Homo sapiens: one gene and its partners. The protein of the gene in region 3 interacts with the protein of the main gene of each other region in a pairwise test. Each region holds a gene or a part of one and is shown on either strand. Other genes may lie near its edges. The genes, in order: COX11, SDHB and TMEM132D.

Region 1 (3,023 bases), on a different chromosome or scaffold from region 3:
AAGAAAGAGTGATAAGATCAACTTTAATCATTCTTGGATCTTCAGCAAATTCAGGATCAATGTAGAAAAACACTGGCATATCTACTTCCTCTTGGGGATTAAGCCTTTGTTCTTCAAAACAGAAGCACTGGAAATTATAGAAAGATTTTAATAACATTTCTATTCTCGTATTACATAACAGAAACTATACAGTTCTTTTATCTTAGCATTCCAGTACACTTCGTGATTTTAATAAGCATACTATTAAATACACAGTTCTGTGATAAATTAAGAGCATCTTTTCATCTCAATGAGTTCTGCTTTAAGGATGAAGAACAAATTCTAATCTTAAAAGCAGATATCCATTTGGTTTGGTTCTCAATCTCTGCATAGCAGGTATAGATAGTGAAGAAAAATAGCTTGATGTTTAGAAGAAATTCGTTTTCAGAAATCACAAGATCTACTAAAACACTAAGTTTCATACTAAACCGTTTCATGTATCTTTATCATATTCTGTAAAGTTTACACTTTGATGTACCTGTATTTTATTGAAATACTGTCCAGCTTCAAATGGAACAATATTGTATGTAGAAATTCCAATTACTGGTTTGTCAGTAGGATTCTTAGCTCTGTAAAACGCCAGTGCAGTCTCTCCTGGCACCACCTGTTTTAAAGAATATATATATTATCAATACTTTGAATCTCACAAAGTTCCTCTTTTCCCTGCTAAATTAGTCTCATTATTTTGCCTATTCATCAGACCATAATACCTAATCTAATGTAGGGTTCAGCAAAATAAATTGTGAATATTACCCATAAACATATCTGAGTTTAAAAACTTACTTGCATATGTCAATGAAGAACCAATGTTCTAATATCCATAATTAGTTATGAACTGTCCTCTTGTATATTTGAGGTCTTCAAGGAATAATCGGCAAATTACATTATTTAAAATGTGTCCAAGCCAATCATATCACAGCCCTAGCCCAACTTTTCTGTAACACTTATACCTGAATGTCATGATTGACTATTTTTTTTAAAAAGATACCAACATTAAACTTACCTTAAAATCAGAATAAAACTGACTGACTAGAACCTTTATTATGCCACAAAGTGTTAATACTTTGGAGAAAATAAGGGAATAGCGAGGCTTAAAAAAATTTTCCAAAGGATATTCTGTCACTTGTACCAATTCAGCCACTAATACCTTTGTATACTACCACGTAATTGGAGAAGATTCATAATCATAACCTATAAAATCTTTATTAAGAGATTCAGTCATGTTTACTAAACTGGGCAAGCACTAATATTTATAAGGCTTTTCCAATATGGGTTGAAATTAACTCACTCTGGCTAATCCTCAATTAATGAGATTTCAGTTAAAATCTTTCTTACAGTTGGTTAAAATTTTAGGAAAGCGTTTAGGTATAGTCTCAGTCTCACTGGAGTATAACATAACTATTTACTACTTATTGATTATTTCAAAGGCCCTCAATTTGTTTTCTTTTAGAAGGACAGGGATACTTTTGATATAAACCAGTAAACTACTCATTGTAACCAATGCTTTTCCACATTTTTCCCATGTCTTCTATGCCTGAGGAAAAGTCAGGAAGCTATATAGCCTGACGGTTACTGCTACTCCCAACTGTTTCACTCATCTAAACTTAATTTCAAAATACTGACGGGTTCCATTACTATAAATTTTTTTATTCCCATAGACTACTTTTTAATAGTGCTTTACACCTAATGTAACAGAATTTATACTTTAACTTTTAAGTTACATGATAGTAAAAGTCAATTTGGAACAATGGAAAATGCCATGTTTTATTAGAATCATAGTGTTAAAATTAGTCCTCTGACAGTTTAAGTGATGAAAGAAAGGAATTTACATTAATAAAGTAATCTTTTAATGACTGGTTAGTCACTTACATATATTTCTGTTTGCTGAGGTCTAAAGTTCCACTGGAGACTTGCATGCACATCTGCATTAAAGCTAATTTTAATGATTCGATCTTTAACAGGCACCATGTTTTCAATCTTGTCTGAGGCATGACCTGCAACTGCTGATCCTCCAAGTCCAGTAGTCTAGAAAAAGATACCAAATATGTTAAACAATACTTTTAGGTGTTGATGATCTATTTATTTGATAAAAGTTTAAAAACAATGTAGTATTTATAATCCATTTGGAGCCAAGTTTACATATGGTAACTGACCATTGCTGTAACTGTGTCAAGAATCTGACTACTTTTGGGATGTCATGAGCCTGTATTTGTTAAAGTCATTCCTATTTTTCAGCAATCCCTTGGTTACCTGGCATGGTCAAAAATGAGTCTGGGAAAAGCAGGTTCACTAGATAAGTCAACTATTATCACTGATAGTCGAACTCACAATTTCCAGCTTAGCCATTTATAAAAAACACATTTCCCTTTATTGCTAGTATTTCATTAATAGAAATAAAATTTACCCATGACCTTGTAATTCCACTGAAAATACTTAACTCAATTTTTCCATATTCCTGTCTGGTCCTTTTCCATATCACAGCTTTTATAATCCAAATAAGATTGTAGCTTCACTTTTATTAACATTCTGCTTTTCTAAGGTATCACAGGTATTTTCCCACGTTGGTTAATGGTTTTGAATCTTTTCTGTACTTCTCTGTATAGTAGAGCTTTTATATAAATCACTAATCAGAGCACCTAATCCCTATGGCCACAGAAATAATCATAGGGCATCAAGAGTATTTATGTCTGACATTTCTTTTATTCATGACAGTTATTTCCTTGACATCACTTTTAAAAAAAGCCCTTACCCAGCACTTTGGGAAGCCACGGGGGGCGGATCATGAGGTCAGGAGATGGAGACCATCCTGGCTAACACAGTGAACCCCCGTCTCTATTAAAAATAGAAAAAAATTAGCCGGGTGTGGTGACACGCGCCTGTAGTCCCAGGTCTACTCGGGAGGCTGAGGCAGAAGAATTGCTTGAACCCGGGAGGCGGAGGTTGCAGTGAGCCGAGATCACACCACTGCACTCCAGCCTGGGCAA
Region 2 (3,657 bases), on a different chromosome or scaffold from region 3:
GGCAGGTAACAAGGGGAAAAAAATCATATAGTCTCATTGTATGATTAGAGCAACAACTTCTTTTGTTCCTTGGATCTCATTGTGAAATGGAATTATCTTTTTGCACTGTTGCGTTTTATGTTTGCGTTTTCACCACTGGTTATAATGGCTAAAAGGTTGGATTTTTGAATCAAGTGACCTGTGTTGCTATATGATCCTATCCTCGTCTTTTAACTGGGAACAACAAAACATTTTTCATAGAGATGTTATAAAGATTAGAGATTATTTGGCACCGTGTGTGACAGATTATAAAGGTTCGATGAATGAAATCTGGCAAATTTTTAGATATATGTATTCAACGAATTTTTTGGTGGAACACAGATAACATAATCCTGAGAATTAACTCTTTGTACAGACCTCAAGATGAGCAAAGCTCTATCACTTTCAGAACCATGACCACTCTGGTGATTTTGATTTCAGAATCTTCTTTCATTCTGGTAAACCCCCTTTGCCCCACCAAATATTGTATGAAATACATTTTTTTTTTTTTTTGAGACAGAGTCACGCTCACGTTGTTGCCCAGGATGGAGTGCAGTGGCGGAATCTTGGCTCACCGTACCCTCCGCCTCCCGGATTTCAAGCAATTCTCCTGCCTCGGCCTCCCAAGTAGCTGAGATTACAGGTGCCCGCCATCGTGCCTGTCTAATTTTTTTGTATTTTTAGTAGAGACGGGGTTTCACCGTGTTGGCCAGGCTGATCTCGAACTCCTGACCTCAGGTAATCCACCTGCCTCGGCCTCCCAAAGTACTGGGATTACAGGCATGAGCCACCACGCCTGGCCTATAAAATACATTTTTGACACAAAACAAATTTAAATTAGTTGTACTGAAAAAAAAAAAATGATGACATTTTGGGGCACTCCAAAACTGATGTTGGGATATGTCGACTTAGATATTCAGTGTAGTACATCCTGGCATTGCTCTTATTTCACATCATTCATATGATAAGACTTTTTAAAAATTTAAATTAGCTCTAATACAAACTTAGTCTCTTTTGGAAAGATAATACGTGATCAATTATCCGTGTAGAGTGGATATGAAACAGATATTTAAATGTTATAAAGAAATGTTGAAGGGAAAACCTCATTGCAGGTAACCACAGTCATCCCACAGGCCTTGTGGTTCTGATACCCAGCTTGATAGAGCCTAATGCCTGTTGCCCACTGACAATACTAAATCAGGCTTTAGAACTAGGGGGTTATGCCTGGCACAGTGGCTCACACCTGTATGTAATCCAGCACTTTGGGAGGCTGAGGCAGGTGGATCACGACATCAGGAGTTCAAGACCATCCTGGCTAAAACGGTGAAACCCCATCCCTACTAAAAATACAAAAAAGTTAGCCGGGCGTGTGACACGCGCCTGTAATCCCAGCTACTTGGGAGGCTGAGGCAGGAGAATTGCTTGAACCCAGGAGGCAGAGAGATCTCGCCACTCCACTCCAGCCTGGGTGACAGAGTGAGACTGTCTCACAAAAAAAAAAAAAAAAAAAAAAAAAAAAAAGAACTAGGGGATTATGCTCCAGTCCCAGATTCTGTTTAAAGCCCGGTTAGGGGCCAGGCGCGGTTGCTCACACCTGTAATCCCAACACTTTGGAACGCTGAGGCAGGTGGATCACTTGAGGCCAGGAGTTTGAGCCCAGCCTGGCCAAATGGCAAAACCTTGTCTGTACTAAAAATACAAAAATTAGCTGGACTTTATGGCACATGCCTGTAATCCCAGCTACCCGGGTGGCTGAGACAGGAGAATTGCATGAGCCTGAGGGGTGGAGGTTGCAGCGATCCAAGATCGCGCCACTGCACTCCAGCCTGAGCAACAGAATGAGACTCTCCAAAAAAGAAAAAAAAAAGTCCAAGTTAGGGCCAGACACAATGGCTCACACCTGTAATCCCAACACTTTGGGAGGCTGAGATGGGAGGATTGCTTAAGCCCAGAAATTCCATACCAGCTTAGCCAACATGGCAAGACCCTGTCTCTACAAAAATTAGCTGGACATGATGGTGTGCACCTATAGTCCCAGCTACTTGGGAGGCTGAGTCAGGATGATCGCCTGAGCCCAGGAGTTAAAGGCTGCAGTGAGCCATGATCTCCAGCCTGGGCAATAAAGCTAGACCATGTGTCTATAAAAATAAAAAATAAAGGCCGGGCAAGGTGGCCTGTACCTATAATCCCAGCACTTTGGGAGGCCAAGGCAGGCGGATCACCTGAGGTCAGGAGTTCAAGACCAGCCTGGCCAACATGGTGAAACCCCGTCTCTACTAAAAATATAAAAATTAGCTCGGCGTGGTGGCAGGCACCTGTAGTCCCAGCTACTCAGGAGGCTGAGGCAGAAGAATCACTTGAAGTCGGGAGGTGGAGGTTGCAGTGAGCCGAGATCGCGCCATTGTACTCCAGCCTGGGGGACAAGAGTGAGACCCCATCTCAAAATAAATAAATAAATAAATATTTTAAAAAATAAATGAAAAATAAAAGTGTCCAAATTAGAAGTAAAAACTTGAAGTAGCCCCATTTTTTAAAAGGCATATTGTCCCACTTACCCTACTATCTGCCTCAGGCACAGCAGCCACCCACTCTGGAAAATAGTTTTGTCAGTTGCTTAAAAAAAACTAAACTTGTAGCTACCATACAGCCCAACAATTACACACCTGGGTGTTTATCCTGAGAAATGAAGATGTAACGTTCACACAGAAATTTGTCCACAAATGTTCATCTCAGCTTTATTCATGTCACCAAAAATTAGAACACCCCCAATGTCCCTCAGTAGTTACATGGTTAAGCAAATTGTGGTACATGATACCTTGGAGTGCTACTCAGCTATAACAAGAAAAAAGCTATTGCTGTACACAGCAACTTGGATGAATCTCCGGAGAATTCGGCTGAATAAAAAAAGCCAATTCCAAAAGGCTACATACCAGATGATTATATTGATATAACATTCTTGAAATGACCGAATTTGAGAAGTAGAGAACAGATTAGTGATTGCTAGGGCTTACGGAGTACAGGGGAGGTAGGGTGGGAGGAAGTGGACAGGGCTATAAAAGGGCAATGTTAGTGATCCTGTGCTTATGGGAATGTCCCCTATCTTGACTAGCACTGTCAGTATTCTGGTTGTGCTGGTGTGCTACAGTTTGCAAGATGTTCCTGTTGGGGAGACTGGGTAAAGAGTATGTGGGCCCTGGCATGGTGGCTCATGCCTATATCCCAACTCTTCGGGAGGGCCAGGCAGAGGATCACTTGGGGCCAGGAGTTCAAGACCAGCCTAGGCAACACAGTGAGACCCCTATCTCTACAAAAATAAATGTAAAAAAACTAACTGGGCATGGTGGCGCATGCCTGTAGTCCTAGCTACTGGGGAAGCTGAGATGGGAGGATCGCTTGAGTCCAGAAGGTTGAGGCTGCAGTGAGCTGTGATCATGCCACTGCACAATCAGTGACAGAGCAAAACTCTCTCTCTTTTTTTTTTTTTTTTAGCTTGAGTTTCACTTTGTCACCCAGGGTGGTATACAGTGGCACAGTCTTAGCTCACTGCAACCTTTACCTCCCAAGTTCAAGCCATTCTCCTGCCTCAGCCTCCCTAGTAGCTGGGATTACAGGCACACGCCACCACACCCTGCTAATTCG
Region 3 (3,657 bases):
TGTGATCCACTTGGTGAGGGACCCTGCTGAAGTGTGTCTCAAGCCCTCCTCCATACCTGTTTTGGCCTCTGCAGAAGTTCCTGAGCCACTGCAGTGGCAAAGATGGCCCTGTTGCTTCCTGGGCTGAGCTGCAAGGAGAGTGACAGCCCTGTCACCAGCTGCACCCCGAGGTCTGTGATGGTCACCTTCTCGTCCAGCACAGTGATGGTCTTTTCAGCGAGGATGGTGTCTGACAGAGGAGACAGGATCTGGAGGGCAGAAGCGACATGACAAGGAAAGGCTTTCTGTGGTCCAGGCAATGCCTCCAGTCACAGGAGGAAGTGCCAGTGTGCAGGCAGCGGCAGGGCAACATGTGAGCCAGAATGAATGAGAACAGGCCTTTCCCACTCACACCACCTTCTGAATCATATGTATTGCTTGAGAAAATGTAATGCATTTTTTGCATAAAGCAAGGTGGTGTCAAGGAGTGGGCAGGTAGGGCTTGGCCCTCTCCCCACACCCCACACATCAGCTCCGTTTCCCACCATGCTCCATCCTGGACAGGAGGAACTGACGTTTTCATTCGACTATTAGCTTTATGATTCTTCTACAGCACAGTGTGTATTTTGTTTAAAATTATTTATTTTACTTAAATGATTTGTTTTTTTCAAAAGCCTTCCTATCACCAGTGAATGACGGGTTGGGTGTACTGGTTACATATTGATAGCTTTCGCTCTTGCACATAAAAACCAATGTGCAACTAGAAGGCGGATCCTGCTGGTCCATCTCAATCACGCGTGTCACTGGAGGCCACACTGTACACTTTGGGAAACGCAGCGCATGATGCCTGTTGATGAGGAATATCGTTGGGCATATTCTGATAAACGTAGGTTCTGAATGTCTACGCCTGATGCCCACAACCCAAAGCCTCATTTCTCCTCTGGACACCTGGAATGACCTGGAAAATGAGGCTTATGTGCAATTTAGACCCTGAACAGGAAATCCTGCTTTTGAGGAACGTCTGTGGAATCACTTCTTCCTCCTCTCACCCTTCGCCCAAATGATAAACAGCTGTCTTAGACTCCTCACAGCCCCGTATAACAACCTTCCTTCTAGAAGAGATGGGCTTCATCCTCCATTCTCCTGCTTTCTCGACCTCTTTCTCTTTTCAAGTTTTTGGTGATATTTATGATGTAGGTCAAGACAGCAGTTTTCCCAGGACCCTTTGAGACCAGGAATCAAAGCTCCATACTTCTACCCGAATGCCACCTTCACTTTCTGGTCCGATTGGGACAATTTAAATGGTGGCGAGCATGAGAGGTGTGTCCCCAGAAGAAAGTGGACAAGTGAATTTATGACTCAGGAGGACACAGTGAGAAAAAAGAGAAAAGAACCAAGGCTCGCAGGAGTAGAGGCCTCACCAAAATAATGTTCATGTTTAATGTGTGGGAAGCTGGCCCACTTCCTCTTCCCTGACACCTGGTTTCAGAACGGTATGGCTTTTCCCCTTTGCACTTAAATTATCACTTAAGGGAAGATGTTAATACCAAATTCTCATCTCGCTGTGAGTTTCTGGGCATCAGTATCAGTTTAGCCTATAGATTTATGGTAGGGATTCAGGTCTTTCAACTTCTTAGTCAATTGTGGAGGTTGCAAGCTCTCATCTATGAGACAGATATGTTTTGTCTGACATAAATCATATTTTAAGGTAGAATTAATGACCATCATTTAGAGAGCCAGAAGATTGCATATAAAAACAGACTTCCAGCTTTTCTGGAAAATTGCAACATATGGCTGCAGTAGACTTGCGTTTCTTCTTGGCAGCTTTTGGCTCTGAGTAAGAGCTTGCCCCTTTTCCACAGGCACCACCACTCCCTGTTGTCTCTCTAACACTCAGAGGAAAATCAGCTGCTGTCTGTCTTTCAGCACACACCCAGCCTACTCTCCTCACTGATGGTAGCTTCTCAGCCTTTAGAGATCATTAGAGCATGCGACTCCTGGTCTACGGCCCAAACCCATTTATTTTCCTCCTTGGATAAAATGAAGTGTTAGATATACCAGCCAATTTTCCAGAATGGATATGTTTTAAATCTTCCACGATCCAATCTAGTCTCAGTTATAATGATTCCTCATGCACAGCTGTTTTAGAAACCTCACAGATTGCCTGATAAGACAATCGCATTGCCTGCAGATGGGGCAGCTGCTGAGTAATACACTCTTCCTTTGGCTACAATGTACACTATTTGGGTGATGGCTACACTAACAAGGCAGACACGCAATATGTCCAGGTAACAAAGCTGCACTTGCACCCCTTACATGTACACAGAAAGAAAACAATCTCTTGCTTTGTTCTCAGCTGGGAGGTAAATGACCAAACCCTTACAAGCCTCCCAGAACACTGTTTTGTTAAAGTGTTTCAAAACCCAAGTGTTGCCACTGGTCCTCTCCGTCACCCGCTCCCCAGCAGAAGGGGCCCACGAGACATATGGAGGCACAATCACTTCACTTCGTCCTTTAGCACATTTCTGAGTTGTTCAGGTTCTCATCAGGCCCGCGGCTGTGACTCGGTAGGGGCGGCCACAATATCCTGAAGCCGTGGGAAGGTTTAGGTGACCATGCTCAGTGGCGGAAAGTGGCTCAGCAGGAAGTTGCTGGCCGTGCCTGTGATTCAGATCAGGTAAGCTCACCTCAAAAGCTTGTTTACCAAGATGGTAACGCCTACCATGGCTTGGGCAAAATCATGTGTTTCAAGCGTGAGCCACCATGGGAGCCAGCCCAGAGTTTCTCCCCTATAAGTAATATGTGAGGAATTTTGAGATTCTCATCACATCATTACATGGCTTGCATTGTGGTTTTGTCTGAGATGGGGTCTAGCTCCATCATCCAGGTTGGAGTGTAGTGGCACGATCTCAGATCGCTGCAACCTCTGCTTCCCAGGCCCGAGCGATCCTTGCACCTCAGCCTCCCGAGTAGCTGGGACCACAGGCATGCACCACCACACTCGGGTAATTTTTTGTATTTTTGGTAGAGATGGGGTTTCGCCATGTTACCCAGGCTAATCGCAAACTACTGAGCTCATGACCTGCCCGCCTCGGCCTCCCAAAGTGCTGGGATTATAAGCGTGAACCACCACACCCAGCCAAAATCGCTTGTATTGCTTACTCCACAATTTCTTTGAATTTACCCATCCTAAAAATAGATACCATTCCCAGCAATGACAAACAGCTGGTTTCTCCTCTAGGTAGAGCAGAGGTGGGAAGACAGAGAGATCTTGATTTGGGGATTTTTTTTTTTTTTTTTACCTGAATGGTGGTCATCCCAAGCTCCTGCCCCATCAGGATCTGTCCGCCTTGCAGCTTGGCGATCCTGGGCTCCTCCACCTGCATGAAGTCATTTATCAGCTCCGTGATGTCCACTTGCCAGTCTGAGCCCAGCAGGTGGGCCAGGTGTCCCCCAGGGCCGGCCGCCTCAGCCACAAACTGCGTCAGGACCCGCACCATGGCGTGCTGGTACTGCAGGGTGCAGCCGCGGCCCCTCCGCTCATCATCCTCCTCCTCTTCACTGTCCCCGGCAGGCCTGTGAAAGAAGCAGTGCAGTTTGCAGACAGTTACTTGTTGGTCCTCTGTAAGGGGCCGTGTGTGGAGCCTGGTGGGGGCTGCAGAGGTAGGTAGGCCATGA

The links.
Region 1: the proteins of TMEM132D (region 3) and COX11 interact in a two-hybrid assay, tested with the Homo sapiens proteins (one large-scale study listed by BioGRID).
Region 2: the proteins of TMEM132D (region 3) and SDHB interact in a two-hybrid assay, tested with the Homo sapiens proteins (one large-scale study listed by BioGRID).

What each region holds. Positions count from the first base shown.
Region 1 is NC_000017.11:54,962,789-54,965,811, forward strand, and holds part of COX11 (cytochrome c oxidase assembly protein COX11, mitochondrial), read right to left. Parts: intron 2,065-3,023; coding exon 1,909-2,064; intron 644-1,908; coding exon 518-643; coding exon of another isoform or gene 473-517; exon of another isoform or gene 133-472; intron 128-132; coding exon 1-127. UniProt on the Homo sapiens protein: Exerts its effect at some terminal stage of cytochrome c oxidase synthesis, probably by being involved in the insertion of the copper B into subunit I.
Region 2 is NC_000001.11:17,047,530-17,051,186, reverse strand, and holds part of SDHB (succinate dehydrogenase [ubiquinone] iron-sulfur subunit, mitochondrial isoform 1 precursor), read left to right. Parts: intron 1-3,657. UniProt on the Homo sapiens protein: Iron-sulfur protein (IP) subunit of the succinate dehydrogenase complex (mitochondrial respiratory chain complex II), responsible for transferring electrons from succinate to ubiquinone (coenzyme Q).
Region 3 is NC_000012.12:129,078,478-129,082,134, forward strand, and holds part of TMEM132D (transmembrane protein 132D precursor), read right to left. Parts: intron 3,556-3,657; coding exon 3,282-3,555; intron 249-3,281; coding exon 57-248; intron 1-56. UniProt on the Homo sapiens protein: Regulate neuronals morphology via inhibition of the WAVE regulatory complex (WCR), a complex that controls F-actin cytoskeletal dynamics.